2 separate regions of the Homo sapiens genome follow, and region 2 is linked to region 1. The links come from fine-mapping of genetic effects on gene expression. A gene starts in region 1. The other region holds a variant in brackets. All regions are shown on one strand. Distances are from middle to middle.

Region 1 (2,765 bases):
TTATAAATGATCAAAAATGTTTAACATACTATTGTTTACAACCTCCCACTACTGTAAAATCTAACATTGCTACTTTCATTTCAGGTAATGCAAAAATACAAGAAGCATTAGCTGTCTGTAGGCAGAAATCTGTTCGAGTCATTCCTTATTACTGAATCCCTAGAATTAATTAAACATCTAGTATGGAGTTGGTATTGTATATAACATTTGCACTCACGTCTTACAAAATAGTCATCTAAGTAGAAAGGTATTCAAGGCAGAAGGATGGAAAAACGTTTGCAGTCTTTTTTGGTTGGCATGAAACACTGACTGCATTCCTCCCAGATTTATAAGAAAGAAATATTTGCAGTCTTACCTGGAGTTAGATGGATGGACTCTCTCAAGGTTATTTTTCAATCTCTGCACATACATACTTATGGAAGTAAGAAAGAAGAGGGAGAAAAGGCAGATCCCCCATAACAGCGGTTAAACACCTGAACTTGCTCCACTATGACAGGGTTTATCATCCACCTCTCAGTCCTCAAGTGGCTGGAAATATGGAAATTGGAGTCCAGGTAGACAGGTGAGTGTACAACCTCTTAAGTGTGGAGCCCTCGGAATTCACAACACTCCCCAAATCGCTTCCTGCGCAGGCGCGGAGTCGGAAGGGAGTCGGAAAGCAGACCCCGGTGCCCCCTAATAAAGCCCCCAGCCGGACGCTGCCGCTACCGGGGTTTGGCAACTTCCGGAAGACCTGTGGCCCAAAGGAGAATCCTGTTGGGGGAGGCGGGGGCCGGTGGTCGCTAACCAATCCGACACCCGCCAGCAGGCTGAAGAGAGGGGCTTTCCCAAAAGGAAAACTTTCCCAAACCTGGGGGATGGGAAGAGAAGACAAAAGGAGCTCCCTTTCCCACTTCCCAGCCGCCCGTCCCAGCCCTCGGCCTCCGCTGCGCGACCCGGGCGGAGGATCCCGGCCGCAGGCCGAGGCGAGAGCCAGGCGGGAGGGCCGCGAGCGGGCTGCCCCTCTCCCCGCCTTGCCGTCCGCCGCTGACGTAACCTGCGAAGTTTGGGGAGGGAGGAGCTCGGGCGGCCGGAGCTGGTCGCTGCGCGCGCCGGGGGGAGGGCCGGGGCTGCGAGAGAGGAAGCTCTTTCGCGGCGCTACGGCGTTGGCACCAGTCTCTAGAAAAGAAGTCAGCTCTGGTTCGGAGAAGCAGCGGCTGGCGTGGGCCATCCGGGGAATGGGCGCCCTCGTGACCTAGTGTTGCGGGGCAAAAAGGGTCTTGCCGGCCTCGCTCGTGCAGGGGCGTATCTGGGCGCCTGAGCGCGGCGTGGGAGCCTTGGGAGCCGCCGCAGCAGGGGGCACACCCGGAACCGGCCTGAGCGCCCGGGACCATGAACGGGGAGGCCATCTGCAGCGCCCTGCCCACCATTCCCTACCACAAACTCGCCGACCTGCGCTACCTGAGCCGCGGCGCCTCTGGCACTGTGTCGTCCGCCCGCCACGCAGACTGGCGCGTCCAGGTGGCCGTGAAGCACCTGCACATCCACACTCCGCTGCTCGACAGGTAGGCAGTCACTGGGGTTCCCTGGAAGAGCCCTCAACTCCTGCATCCCCTCAAGCCCCCTGACAAGCGGGCTCTAGAGCCCAAATGGCAGTGACCGCTTGGGGCCGGCCTCACCTCGTCACCTCTAGGGAGCCCTTCAAGCTTGGGAGATAGGGAGCACCCACCCTTCAAGCTCTGGCACCGTAGGGAGCACAGGCTTCTCTGGAGATGCAGCAGTTGCATTCCTCCACACATCTCTCCATTACCCTTTCTCTCCTTCCCTCTTACTCCTAGGCGTTCTGGCTCCGTACTCCAAAAATCAGCAATCACTGCCTAACTCTAAACGCTGGGTTTACTGAAATTGATGTGTGTTTATATATAGTGGGTGTGGGTTTTGTTTGCTTTGTTTTTTCCTTATTTTTGAAATTGGGCTGTAGGGCTGCACTGTCCAGTAGGTAGCTCTTAGCCACAGGTGGCTATTGAGCACTTGAAATGTGCCCGTCCGAATTGAAGTGTGACCTAAGTGTAAAATACCAGAGTTCGAATGCTTAGTATTTATTAAAAAAAGAACTTATAATATTTTATTATTTGTTTATTGATTATATGCTGAAATAACATTTTTGATATCTTGGGTTAAATATAAGATTAAAATTCATTTTATGTGTTTCTTTTTACTTTATGTGGCCACGAGAAAATTTTAAATTGTATGTGGTGGTGTTCACATTATATGTTTATTGGACCGCACTGCTTTAGAATCAAGGATGTTTTGCTTCTTATTGTTTTTATTTTGGTTTTGGTTTATTATGTGTTGTCAGGAACGTTTTATATCAAACTCAATACTAGCAGTTCAGTTTCTCCCAGTCTCAGTTTCTCTCACAGGGAAGATTAAGTAGAGGAAATGTGTGCTATTTTTGCCACAATAAATTGAACCAAAAGACTGTTAAATGGCCAGAAATTGTAAATGGCTTTCACTTATTGGTTTGTACAGGTTTTAAGGGAAGGTTAGCATTAGTTTCTGTTTTCAGAAGAACATTACAACCGCGTGCCATAGACCTGTGACTGTGTATTAGTCAATGGGTCACTAGTCTTGTGTATTTTACTTCCTACAGGGATTTAACTAGGCCCAGCATTCAGTTCTTAGTGAGTTAACATCCATGATTACAACATTCTCTTCTCCTCCTCCTATATCTAATGTGAAAATACGTCATCCCCGATGCCTGATTGGCCAGAAGCTGTGAGTAT
Region 2 (3,030 bases), 33 kb before region 1:
AATTTAAATACAACCCACTCCAAGAAGTAATTTTTTAAGGGCTGGGTGTGGTGGCTCACACATGTAATCCCAGCACTTTGGGAGGCTGGGGTGGGCAGATCACCTGAGGTCAGGAGTTCGAGACCAGCCTGACCAACATGGAGAAATCCCGTCTCTACAAAAAAAAAAAAAAAAAAAATTATCTAGGCGTGGTGGCACATGTCTGTAATTCCAGCTACTCAGGAGGCTGAGGCAGGAGAATCGCTTGAACCTGGGAGGTGGAGGCTGCAGTGAGCCGAGATCGCACAATGCACTCCAGCCTGGGCAACAAGAGCAAAACTCCGTCTCAAAAAAAAAAAAAAGTAATTTTTACTAGGACTCATTGTAAGAAATATGTTCTGTAACACAACCCAGTACATACACATATGTGTTTATTTTATAGACATGATAAGATATATATATAATTGAAACCAAAATTTGATGAAGCTATGCCTACTCTTACTTCCTGAAATGCAATGATATTTCATATTCTATTTTATTGTTTAATAACTACTGATCACTCCCTACAAAATTGATTTCAAAATCCACTGAGAGTCATGACCTGAAGTTTGAAAACAAGAAACATTTATTTTTACCACCATGGAAAATTTTGGAGGATTAAGTAAGATAACATACGCAGAGCATTTAGCATAACTCCTGGCACATACCATGTGCTAAATTCATGGTAGCTATTTTTATGTATCTTTTTGAAAACTAGCTGCAATTGTGGAAGGCAGGGACAATGAGGGGAAAACCCTGACTGGGCTATAGATGAATTTATTGTCAGTTAGGTCTGTCCTTGGTAGTGAGATGGGGAATTTCTCCAGTATCTTTAACTTGTGCTGCAATGGAAATGTGTATGCAGAAAGAGAGCTGACTCATGGTTATCTCTTCTCCACTACAAAAAATTGCAAATTACAAGTTATTGTGCCTCACCACTGGAAACCTCAGTAAATTCCAAATTATTGATCCATATTTACATCCAGTACTTACACTGGATACGATGATGTATACAGAACTGGTCTTCAAAAGGAGTCCTGCTGGGAAGAAGTGTTCATTTTTTGTTGATGCTTTATCAAATTACCACAAACTTAGTGGCTTAAAACAATGCAAATTTATTATCTTATAGTTCTAGAGGTCAGAAATCTGGACAGAGTCTCACTGAGCTAAAATCATGGTGTCAGTAGGGCTGGGTTGCTTTCCAGCAGTTCTAGGTGAGAACCCATTTCCTTACCTTTTCCAACTTCTTGAAAGAAGCCACCTGTATTGCTTGGCTCATGGCCCCTTCTTTCATCCTCAAAGCCAGAAACAGCAGGTTGAATCCTTCTCACATCACGTCACTCCAACTCTGACACTGACTCCATTGTCACATATCCTTTTCTGGCTCTTCTGCCTCTCTTCCATCTTTGAAAAACCTTTGTGATTACACTGGGTCCA[G/C]CTGAATAATTCAGGATAATCTCCCCATTCAAGATCCTTGACTCAATCACATCTTCAAAGCCCTCTTGCCATGTGAGGTAATATCAGAGGTGCTGGAACATTTGGTGGGGTTGGGGCAGTAGGCAACTATTCTGCCTAACACAGGACATAAACCACAAAAAAGAGCAAATAAGATGCAACAACAATAATGATAACACTGAACATTTACTATATGGCAGGCATTGTGCTGAGTAAATTATTTGCCTTGACTCACTTTCTAGGTGAGAAACCAAGACTCCCAAAGATAATGCAAAGTACAGAGTTATACAGATAGAAAGTGGCAAACCCAGGTCTGCCTGACTTCAAAGATCATACTCTCAACCACTTTACTACACATAACAAAATACCAAATCTATACACAATTAGTGGTTTGCAACTTTTCTCTATCAGGAATTCCTTTTGCTATTTTCCCTCCAGGGACCTGATCTTGAAAAATTTTGTAAATTAAACAGCAAAACATTTTATTAACCTAAGCCAAACTTCTGATTCCAACATCTGATAGCTTTGAGCTAAACTCTTTGTCTCTTTTGGGACTTACATAGTTCTAACCCCCTCAAAAAAAATGCAATTAACATTTCATTTTACATATCTTGGCATCATTTTGGAATCCTAAAAACAGGAACTCAAATAACCACCTTTATAGATACCTGATGAGTTGTTTCAGGTTGAAGTAATGATCCAAGAGTTCAGAGAAGGAGATTGATGGTGGTGGTGTAGTCAGAAGAAGTGGAATATAACCTCAGTCTCAAAGAAGCAGAAATTTCCAATGAACTAGAGAAGAAGGAAGAATACAAATAGCGTCTAGGAAGTGAGAACAAGTAAATCTAGGGAAGCTTGTTAGGAAAAACTGGAAAAGAAAATTAAGTAGAGAATAAATAAAGCATTCAGGCTTTGAAACACAGGTAAATACAGTTACATTTAACCAGATAGGAAAATACAGAATCTGGAAAGTTTCTGGGCCACAAAGTGCCACACAGTAAAATCAGGCATCTGCTCCTGGCATGCTTAAGAGCTCAGAATAAAGGACTTCCCCATTCTGCCCCTTCCCCCACTGTAAAGCTCACTGGCTTAAAAAACTGCTCCTTCTGCTACTATCTACCTCATTCTAAGCATCAACTCTAGGTGGGGCTGGTGCCTAGGCATTTTATAATTACTTTTCTATGTCTGCCTAACTTGGCTGAGAACCTACTTCAGAACTGACTCAAAAATCTCACAGATGCTGTCATTCACCCTCAGGATCTGTGTTTAATAATAGAGTCACAAGGCCTATGCAATCCAACTCAGCCCAGGGTCTGGCTTAGCCAATGTCTGCCAGCTGGTCTCATCCCCACACCCCAGGCCCCCACTTCATCACCAGTACATTGGCATCAATATTTATCTTTTCAAATTGGCATGCAATTTAAAAGAATGTTTTTATCTCACAGATCAGCAGGTATCCTATTATTATCTAGTTTTATGCTGATTTTTTAGGAGCTAACTAATGAAAAGACTCAATCATTGTTTTTGTGGGAAGATGTTGAAACTTTACCCTTTCTG

Evidence for each region.
Region 2: its variant is fine-mapped to the expression of PARAIL in subcutaneous fat (GTEx, PIP above 0.99). The same link has a PIP of 0.9 or more in breast, fibroblasts and tibial artery.

The regions. Positions count from the first base shown.
Region 1 is chr8:89,756,690-89,759,454 of GRCh38, forward strand. It overlaps PARAIL (palmitic acid regulated anti-inflammatory lncRNA), which reads right to left and starts at 1,022. Exons shown (of 5, transcript NR_125822.1): 1 at 356-1,022. It overlaps RIPK2 (receptor interacting serine/threonine kinase 2), which reads left to right and starts at 1,127. Exons shown (of 11, transcript NM_003821.6): 1 at 1,127-1,544. The coding sequence starts at 1,372. RefSeq lists a silencer at 873-992 and an enhancer at 1,533-1,602.
Region 2 is chr8:89,723,377-89,726,406 of GRCh38, forward strand. It overlaps PARAIL (palmitic acid regulated anti-inflammatory lncRNA), which reads right to left. Exons shown (of 5, transcript NR_125822.1): 2 at 2,142-2,265; 3 at 1,253-1,590. Among named protein-coding and RNA genes, the nearest start is that of PARAIL, 33 kb to the right of the region's middle. RefSeq lists enhancers at 2,328-2,877, 2,453-2,502, 2,533-2,582, 2,633-2,732. The variant G/C (reference allele first, on the strand shown) is at 1,456.